Linked DNA regions of Homo sapiens: region 2 is linked to region 1. A link means that fine-mapping ties the variant in region 1 to the expression of a gene that starts in the linked region. Tissue or cell type: spinal cord. Region 1 holds a variant in brackets; the other region holds the start of a gene. All regions are shown on one strand. Distances are between the middles of the regions. Region 1 overlaps NLRP4 (NLR family pyrin domain containing 4). Region 2 holds the start of NLRP4 (NLR family pyrin domain containing 4).

What was found.
Region 2: it holds the start of NLRP4, and the variant in region 1 is fine-mapped to the expression of NLRP4 in spinal cord (GTEx, PIP 0.95).

Annotation. Positions count from the first base shown.
Region 1 is chr19:55,854,824-55,860,204 of GRCh38, reverse strand. It overlaps NLRP4 (NLR family pyrin domain containing 4), which reads right to left. Exons shown (of 10, transcript NM_134444.5): 3 at 956-2,531. Among named protein-coding and RNA genes, the nearest start is that of NLRP4, 21 kb to the right of the region's middle. The variant C/A (reference allele first, on the strand shown) is at 2,759.
Region 2 is chr19:55,833,398-55,838,778 of GRCh38, reverse strand. It overlaps NLRP4 (NLR family pyrin domain containing 4), which reads right to left and starts at 2,239. Exons shown (of 10, transcript NM_134444.5): 1 at 1,845-2,239. It also overlaps a transcript of NLRP11 not described here.

The DNA of each region.
Region 1 (5,381 bases):
GACCATCCTGGCCAACACGGTGAAACCCTGTCTCTACTAAAAACACAAAAAATTAGCTGGGTGTGGTGGCGGGCCCCTCTAGTCCCAGCTATTCGGGAGGCCGAGGCAGGAGAATGGCGTGAACCTGGGAGGCGGAGCTTGCAGTGAGCCAAGATCTCGCCACTGCACTCCAGCCTGGGTGACAAAGCAAAACTCCATTTCAGAAAAAAAAAAAAAAAGAACAAGAAGAAAATTTGTATGATTTGTGTTTTGTTTTTTTTTTTTTTTTTTTTTTTTTTGGAGATGAGAGTCTCACTGTCACCCAGCCTGGAGGGCAGTGGTGCGATCTCAGCTCACTGCAACCTCTGCCTCCCGGGCTCAAGTGATTCTCCGGCCTCAGCCTCCCAAGTAGCTGGGATTACAGGTGTGCGCTACACACCCGGCTAATTTTTGTATTTTTAGTGGAGACGAGGTGTCACCATGTTGGTCAGGCTAGTCTCGAACTCCTGACCTTAAGTGATCCACCTGCCTCAGCCTCCCACAGTGGTAGGGTTACAGGCATGAGCCACCACACCCGGGCTGTATGATTTTTTAGACTAAGTTTTCAAAGGTAACTTGCAGCTGAGAGGTCAAGACACAGGGAGTGTGGTGCTATGGAAAAATATCGATTATAGTACTGATCAGCTAATACTTGAGAAAGTAGGAAACACTCTTCACACAGGTCCTCATATTCACTCCTCACAATACAATTATTATTCCCCCTTCTGTAATGGGGCCACTGCAGCCACAAAAGGGCAAGGCTCACAGACAAAGTCTAAGAGCTCCTAAAATGTTGGGCCAGGATGTGAGCTGAGGTTTTGTGGCAGAAAAAATGAGTTTCTAACCATGATCCTATATTAAACACTCCCTCAGCAAAACCCACTTGGGAATACAGACAGATTCTGAGAAGAGAGAAAAAGTCATAGGATGGACTCACGTAGAGCTGTGTTCATCCTCTTTCTTAAAGACATTTTGAACGGAAAAACAGAGTTTCCTCAAGCTGGAGCAGTATTTTAAGCAGTAGGCAGAAACCACCAAGTCCACGTTGTCAATAATATGAAAGTTAGCTTCTTGGAGGAGGTTCACTGCCTGCTTCACAAAGGCAGGATCCTGCATTTCAAAGAGACAGTAAAATATCGCCAAGGAATCCACCTGTCCCTGAGGATTGCCACGCTCCCCTAAGCTCTTCAGGCACTGGTGAATTTGCTGCTTTATCTCTTGGGACAGTTGGAAGCCAAAAAACGCATCCAGTTTTTCTTGTTCCTTTTTATTTAAAAGGCCAGTTAGAAAACACCCCAAAAAAATCCAATGTGCTCTCCTTGCTTTTTCAAAATTGGCAACTAGCAATTCCTGTACACATCTCACAGCTGGGTGAGGATGATCAAGGTGGCTCTTGAGCAAATAGAACAAGGCGGCACAGAACTCCTGGATACACACGTGGAGGAACACGTAGGAGCTCTCACGCTCCCCGTACTTCAGAAGTATCTTGGTGCCCAGCAGCGCAGGGATGTCAGCGTCAACAACCCCATTTCTCCGGAGGTCGTCTTCACAAAACTCAAATGTGTCTGTCCACATACCCTCTGCAGCCAGGGAGCACAGGGCCTTCAGCTGGTGCTGGGTTTGCGGAGTCGGGCCCTCGGCACCCTCAGGTGTGAACAGGTTAAAGACGAAAGAGGAGTACACAGAGGTAGTGCTCTGGCAGGTCAGGGCCAGGTCTTTTCCTTTCTGCATCTCTTGCTTCAGACTGGTACACAGGATCCAGCAGAGGAGCGGGATTTGGCATATGGAAAACAGCTGTTCACTTTCTCTTACAAGATTGAAGGCTTCCATGGCTCTTTTCGGGTCTTTGAAGAAACAGCAGAAATACACTAACCTATCACTCTCGTTGAATCCCCGGGGCTGGTAGATTTCTGAGATCGTCACCTGATCCCGGAGCTCCTTCGGGCACACGGGTTTGATAGCGATGAGCAGGGAGGCCTCCGGGAGCATCTTCTTCCTCAGCAAACTGCTCAGAAGCACCTGCACCGGCCGTTTCTCCATCAAGTCACCACACAGATCCGAATCGGGTTCGTTCAAGCCGCCCTGCAGCTCTTCGAAGCTGTCGATGACGAACAAGAGTCTCTCCGGTTGAGACACGATCTCTGTTATAGGAGCAGCGGGGTCAGGCCACTCTCTGGAAATCAAGTCAGCCAAACTCGTTGGCGGCAACTCCCTCAGTTCTCTGCAGCAGAAATAGAACGTGTACAGGAACCTATCCCGAAAGATCTTGTTGTCCGACCAGGCCATCATCAGCTTCATCAGGAGTGTCGTTTTTCCAATTCCTTGTGGTCCTTGAATGATCACTGTACGTGGCTGTTTCCCAGCTTCCTTGGGAGCAAAAAGGCGGTCCAAATGGTCACATTCTTCTTGCTTGACTTCCTCCTCAAAGTATAGGTGAATCTCAGTGACAGACTTGCTGGACCATAAGCGGCTGAATTTCTGCTTTGCGTGAGCTTGATAGGTCTTTGTGTATCCTGAGTCAGTGAGGGCAAGAGGAGAGAAAACCCACAAAGTTAAGCATTCCTGCATATATTCTTTTTTTCTTCTCAGGATGTATCTTTCCAGGGGTCTACACACTGTGGCCCCCAGGCCAAACCTGGTCAGTCTCCTCTTGTAAATAAAGTTTCATTAGAACTCACTACACCATTCACGGGTATATTGTCTACAGGAGCCTTCCTGATTGAATAGCAGAGCTGAACAG[C/A]TATGAGAGACCGTATGACTCACAAAGCCTAAAATGGAAACCATATGGTCCTCTACACAAAAAGGTTGACAACTTCTGCTTTCAATAGACACACACACACACACACACACACACACACACATTCATTGCTACTACGTAAAGTTTGACAACTTCTGCTTTCAATAGACACACACACACACATATACATTCATTGCTACTATGTAAAGTTTGACAACTTCTGCTTTCAATAGACACATACACAGGTATTCATTGCTACGATGATAGCAAAATAAATGGAAAATAGCTATATGACTATCAAGACCAGTTAAATAATTTATGAGACACAAGCTATTATACAAATATTAAAAGTATGGAATAATCTCTTCATATGGATAAGCAACAGGACGGTGTCTATAGCATGTACTCAATTTGCATAAACAAGGGATTTATATACACATATAGGTTTCACATATAGGGACTAGATCTGAAAGTCCACCTAAAAAGGACCTGACCTAGGCAGTTGCCTCCAGAAGAGAGAGGAGATGCAGTAGAGAGGATAGAATGGCACCTCGCATCCATTCCAACTTTATGCCAGTGAGCTTTCTTTCAATGGCAGAATTCTCAAAAGAAAAGCCAATCAAAAAATCCAACAACAGGCCGGGGCAGTGGTTCATGCCTGTAATCCCAGAACTTTGGGAGGCCAAGGTGGGCAGATCATGAAGTCAAGAGATCAAGACCATCCTGGCCAACATGGTGAAACCCTGTCTCTACTAAAAATACAAAAATTAGCCGGGCGTGGTGGTGTGTGCCTGTAGTCCCAGCTACTTGGGAGGCTGAGGCAGGAGAATCGCTTGAACCCGGGAGGCAGAGGTTGCAGTGAGCTGAGATGGCACTGCTGTACTCTAACGTGGGCAACAGAAGGAGGCTCCGTCTCAAAAAAAAAAAAAAAAAAAAAAGATCCAGCAACAGTGATGACCAAGCCCTACGCATCCCACAACCCCTCGTAGCTAAGATCAAGGTACAGATTAAGTTCTGCGATTGGCCCTCACTCTCATGACACTGGAAGGGGAAGGGGAGTGGAGTCTATCTTCTGCCTGTTTTGCTGCCAGCTTCCATGAACACACAGACGCTGGACTCTTCTGTAACAGAAGGCTTGTCTCCAGTTGCTGTAGTTGGCTGGGCGCAGTGGCTCACGCCTATAATCCCAGCACTTTGGGAGGCTGAGGCAGGCAGATCACTTCAGGCTAGGAGATCGAGACCAGCCTGGTCAACATGGTGAAACCCCATCTCTACTAAAAATACAAAAATTAGCTGGGCGTGGTGGTACAGGCCTATAATCCCAGCTACTCGGGAGGCCAGGGCAGAAGAATCGCTTGAACCTGGGAGGTGGAGGTTGCAGTGAGCAGAGATTGCACCACTGTAATCTAGCCCTGGCAATAGAGCGAGACTGTCTCGAAAACTAAAACCAGTTGCTGTGGTCATTGATTTTAAGCAGCTGCTACACTGGTGAGCTTCCCGATTTCTGAATCATAGCTGTCGTGGTGTATTTCTAAAGCCACAGTTCTAACAGTGAGCTTCCCATCTCCCACTTTCCTCTTTGCAGGAGAGGCAGCAGCTCCCTGATACTATAGTTCTTACAGTCATCTCTGGAGCACCAGCCTAGAGGCTGATCCTTCAGCCAGGCCGAAAACTCCTTTACAGTTATCTGTTCCTTAAATAACTAGTACGATGTTTATATTCTGCAAGTGAGTAGCTGCTGATGGACTGGAGATGTAGGGGGCAGTTGTAGATGGGAAATTTTCCCTATGCCCCGCATAATAGTTACTGGATTTGATTGGATGCAGGTGAAAGATATAATCCAGTGCCCACAGACTGCTGACAGTAGGTAATGCTACCTTAAGTTTTTGGGGAGAACAAGGGATTCCCCCAATCTTTCAGTCCCCTGAAGTCCCTAACTGGTGAAAATGCCATCTGACATTGGTGAAGATCCTATTAGCATCTTAAGCTAAGTTGTTTGCCCATTCCCCAATGGCTTCCTGCTTTCCTGGTCTTCTCAGCTGTTCTGGAGATTTCGGTGACATGTTTGGTTGCTCATAAGGGGAATTAAGTGGGTACAACCTCAAACCAACTGTGAAAAGAGAGAAGTGTAAGTACCCAGTGGAAGATCTAACTTTAGACCTGCTTACATTTTATTTTAGCAATATTCTAAAATGGTTCCATGTGCAAAGAATGTTCTTCTTTATATAAATTACTTTTTTGAGACAGGGTCTCACTCTGTTACCCAGGCTGGAGTGCAGTGGCACAAACACAGCTCACTGCAGCCTCATCCTCCTGGGCTGAAGTGATCCTCCTGCCTCAGCTTCCAGGGTAGCTGAGACCTCAGCGTGTGACACCAAAACACTCCAGGAAACATGGGGGAATTTGTTTAAAAATTTGGACTGGGTGGCCAGGTGTGGTGGTTCACACCTGTAATCCTAGCCCTTTGGGAAGCCAAGGCGGGCGGATCACCGGAGGTCAGCAGTTCAACACCAGCCTGGCCAACATGGCAAAATCCCGTCTCTACTAAAAATATAAAAACTAGCTGGGCGTGGTGGTGAGCGCCTTATAATCCCAGCTACTCCGGAGGCTGAGGCAGGAGAACCGC
Region 2 (5,381 bases), 21 kb after region 1:
CCCTGAAGCATTTAGGGTAAATTATTAGATGTAAATTTGTACAATGTGTACAAATCTTGAACAGATCAGGAAAAATACTTATATAAGAGTAGAGGGACACCATATAAGGTAAACTTTTAACATTTGGTGATCCTAAGGATATATTCTTGAAGCTGTTCTCTAAGTGTAAAATCACATCATTTTTTTCTTTTAATAGCGTACTAGCTTCCTTGGGCTGGCATGACAACGTACCACAAACTAGGTAACTTAAAACAGAAACCTACTGTCTCATGGTTCTGGAGCCTAGATGTCCAAAATCAAAGTGTTGGCAGGGTGCTGCTCTCTCTGAAACCCAGGGGAGCCCTTCCTTGCCTCTTACTGGCTTCTGTGGTTTGCTGGCAACCTGTGTCACTCTTTGGTTTGCAGCTATGTAATTTCACTCTGACTTTGTCACATGCCATTCTGCTTGTCTCTACCTTCATGTGGCCATTTTTTCTAAGATGGAGTTTCACTCTTGTTGCCCAGGCTGGAATGCAATGGCGCAATCTTGGCTCACTGCAACCTCTGCCTCCCAGGTTCAAGCAATCCTCCTGCCTCAGCCTCCTGAGTAGCTGGGATTACAGGCATGCGCCACCACAGTTGGCTAATTTTTTGTATTTCACCATGTTGGTCAGGCTGGTCTCGAACCCCCAACCTCGGGTGATCCACCCGCCTCGGCCTCCCAAAGTGCTGGGATTATAGGTGTGAGCCACTGCATCCAGCTTGAGACCGAGTCTCATTCTGTCACCCAGGCTGGAGTGCAATGGTGCAATCTCGGCACACTGCAATCTCCACCTCCTGGGTTCAGGCAATTCTCCTGCCTCAGCCTCCTGAGTAGCTGGGATTACAGGCACCTGCCACCATACCCAGCTGATTTTTGTATTTTTAGTAGAGACAGGGTTTTGCCATGTTTTCCAGGCTTGTCTTAAACTCCTGAGCTCAGATGATCCACCCACCTCAACCTCCCAAAGTGCTGGTGTTACAGGCATGAGCCACCACACCCAGCCGCATGTGGCCGTTTTCATAAGGACACCCGTCATTAAGTTAGGGGGGCCACTCACTCCAGTATGACCTCGCCTTAACTAATTACATCTGCAACAACCTTATTTTGTCACCCTATAAAGGGGTTAGGACTTTGTGTGTGTGTGTGTGTTTTTAGGGTTGGGACACAATTCAACCCTTAACAGTAAAAACCAACTTTTATTGATATAGAAAGATAAATATTCTTTCTATATACGTTTCATAGTCTAAACAAATGGCATAATTGGAGAAGGGGGATGAAAAGAGGTTGGCTAATGGATACCAAGTTACACCTGTAGGTAGGAATAGGTGCTGGTGTTCAGTAGCACTATAGGTTGAATATACTTAATATCTTATTATTTTCGAGGGTTTTTCTAACTTTTATGTTAGGTTCAGGGGTACATATACACTGGTTATACAGGTAAACTCGTGTCACAGGGGTTTGGTGTACAGTTTTTCATCTCCCAGGTATTAAGAATAGGACCCCATAGCTATCTTTTCCTGACCCTCTCCCTCCTCCCACCTAAGGAGAGGATTCTGAATGTTCCTAACACAAAGAAATGATACAGGTATGAGGAGATGGATATGCTCATTACCCTGATTTAATGATACGTATACATGTACCAACACATCTCTCTGCAGCTAATATACATAATTAGTATGAGTCAACTAGAAGTGTGATTTTCTTTTTAAATCACATTCTGGAATTACAGTATCAAAGACGTTTCTGCCCTAGGTCAGAGAGCAAGCTCACAAGAGCAGAGAGGGCTTGGGTCCCACCTTTCATGGGAAGTCCCCCCCCTTACCTCATCCCTGTCTATGTTCTCCAGCTTCTCCTACATGTTTGTGTCAACAGAGATGAAGAATCTAATAAGAACATTCCCACCCTCGAAGCTCCAAGGTCTCCCTTCGTGACGAGTCTCCCCCACCTCCACCCCCCATTCTTCTCACAGGTCTCAGGCTCCTGGGAGGCACCTTATAAACACAGGGCGTTCATCTACCCCACTAACTGGAGAGAAGGAAAACGCTGGGTAAATAGAATGGAGAGGCCTGGCTGTGATCGATCAGCCTCAAGAAAGGAGACAGGGTAAAAGGGAGAAAGAAAAGGAAGACCCAAAGTAACCCAGGAAATCAGCACATAGAAGAGACGAACAGCCCAGCACGAAGCGCTGACTCACCGCTCCACGCCTTCCTGGTCCTTAATGATTGGCGGCTGGAAGCGGGAAGAAAAGATCCGTGGTGCCATTTGATTGGCCAACGAATTGCTCCCTTGCCATTGGCTCAGAGGGCTTTTGATGAACAGATCCAGAAAATATGTGAAGCGAAACGCCCACCGCCCCTTGAGGGGCTGTTCTAGACCTTTGCTCCTGGTGTCGTATAGAGCGGGGGATATTTCAAGCTGGAGGTTCCTATTGAGAATTCCCAGGGCTCACGGCTGCAGGGATGCTCCTCCAGTCTCTCCAAAATGGTTCATTTGGAGAGTTGGGGTGACTCTGTTTATAATTTAAATGTCTAATTCCTTCCTACATGCTAAACTCCTTGAAGAATGTTCGTGTGGCACAACATCTTTCTGCCGTAACTAAACCTGTCGTGCAAGAAGAAATTATTAATTATTATTAGATACGGTCTCACTCGGTCACCCAGGCTGGAGTGCAGTGGCGTCATCTCGGCCCACTGTAACCTCCACCTCCCGGGTTCAAGAGATTCTCCTGCCTCAGCCTGCTGAGTAGCTGGGATTACAGATGCACACCACCATGCCCGGCTAATTTTTGTATTTTCAGTAGAGACGGGCTTTCGCCATGTTGGCCAGGCTGGTCTCGAACCCTTGACCTCAAGTGATCTGCCCGCCTCGGCCTCCCGAAGTGCTGGGATTACAGGCATGAGCCACTGTGCCTGGCCTCGGCTAATTTTTGTATTTTCAGTAGAGACAGGGTTTCACCATGTTGGCCAGGCTGGTCTCGAACCCTTGACCTCAAGTGTTCTGACCGCCTCGGCCTCCCAAAGTGCCGGAATTACAGGCATGAGCCACTGTGCCTGGCCTCGGCTAATTTTTGTATTTTCAGTAGAGACAGGGTTTCACCATGTTGGCCAGGCTGGTCTCGAACCCTTGACCTCAAGTGATCTGCCCGCCTCGGCCTCCCAAAGTGCCGGGATTACAGGCATGAGCCACTGTGCCTGGCCTCGGCTAATTTTTGTATTTTCAGTAGAGACAGGGTTTCACCATGTTGGCCAGGCTGGTCTCGAACCCTTGACCTCAAGTGATCTGCCCGCCTCGGCCTCCCAAAGTGCTGGGATTACAGGCATGAGCCACTGTGCCTGGCCTGCAAGAAGAACTTAATGGATATCGGCTACTGTCTTTCTGCGTAGGCAGAACAGGCGCTAAGTTTTTTAGACGCAAGGTCGAGATTTCATCATTGGGCATGGTTTTCCTGCTATTCCAGCTTCCCTACAATCGTTACAGTCATCTTCTGGGTTCACGCCAAACCTCAGTGTCCTAGGAGCTATCCTTTTACAATCACCATTTTAGTTCCTCCTTATAAGAATCCTGAGTTCAGTGTTACGATGGTGATGATCCTGGTTTTGAAATATACACATCAAGGAGTGCAGAGAAACATAATGAGAACTTTAAGGAATTACTGTAACCATAACACAAGTCTCTGTGGTCCAGAACCTAGATTGGGAAGCAGACATGATGGGGACCTTTGCAGACTCATGTACCCATAAGAGCATGCCCGTTGCATCCTCAGGGGTTCCCACCAAAATAAATTTCCAGTTGTGAAGTGAACTTCATTCCCTTCGATTTTCTTTTTATTTTTCCTGGTGATACATGTTCCCCTAAGAGATATGTTTTGTTTTCCTCATTTTCGAATTATAGTGTATCATTCTGTGACTTGATTCTTTTCACTTATTATGTTTTTGAGATTAATCAATGCGAGTTTGTTATAGCTGCGGTTCATTTCTAGGTCTTGCCTCACGGTATTTAAATGTATGACTAGGTCACCATTTAATGATCCATTCTGTCAGTGATAGGTGGTTGGGTGGTTTCTCAGTTTTTGCCAATATGAACAATGCTGTTTTGAACCTTCTTGCACACATCAGTGAGCCCACAGGACTTTTGGATTACCTGAGTGGAATGACTGAGTCCCTGAGGCACAGGTGACTTCAGTTGCCTCTTCAGAAGTGGTTTCACTAATTACATTAGCATCATGCACAGTTGAATATCCCCATAGCTGCACCTTACTGCCTACTCCTGATGTTGTTGACATTTTAAAGTAGTCACCAAATATTAGTTGGAAAAAGTATTTTGTTGTTTTCATTTGCTTTTATCTGATTATTAATATACTTGAACATTGTTCTCATGTTTGTGAGCCATTTGTTGCCTCTTTTGTGAAATACCTTTTCATTGTTTTCCTTGTATTTCTATTGGTTGTGTTCTGTTTTTATTTGCATGAAGAAGTGCTTTACCTTTTCTGAAAAAGTGGTTTGGTCAGTTATGTGTGATGCACGTATTTTCATATATCTCCTCCTAGTTTGTGGTTTGTAGCTTTTGTTATATAAGAACCATTCACTGAAGAGTTTTTATTTTAAATGAAATCAAATTGATCAAAATGTACTTTATGTTTTATAAATGTGAGGTCTTGTTGACAAAAATCATTCCCTACTCCAACTCATGAAGATATCTAATATTGCCTTTTAAAATATGATAGAGTTTTGAATTTCACACAGAAGTATTAAGTCACTTGTAATTATTTTTCTCTAAGGTAGGGAGAAGGGATCCATTTTTTTTTTTTCATTTAAATACAAATGGCACCAGCTCCATTTAATGAATAGTTCACCTACGCCACTGCCCAGAAATCTGTTATAAACCAGCTTTTCGTATTTGCCTACATTGGTTTCTGGGTTCTATGTTTTTTTCACTATTATTTGTTCATCCGTGTGCCAATAAGTCTTTTTTTTTTTTTTTTTTTTTTTTTTGAGACGGAGTCGCTCTGTCGCCCAGGCTGGAGTGCGGTGGCCTGATCTCGGCTCACTGCAAGCTCCTCCTCCCGGGCTCAAGTAATTCTCCTGCCTCAGCCTCCCGAGTAGCTGGGACTACAGGCGCCCGCCACCACACCTGGCTAAATTTTTTTATATTTTTGGTAGAGACGGGGGTTTCACCGTGTTAGCCAGGATGGTCTCGATCTTCTGACCTTCTGATCTGCCCGCTTCAGCCTCCCAAAGTGCTGGGATTACAGGCATGAGCCACCGCCCCCGGCCAACCAATAAGTCTTAATTACCATAGTTTTTAAATTAAATCTTTATAGGGTAGGTCCAACTCAATCATCATTCCCACCTCCCACCCA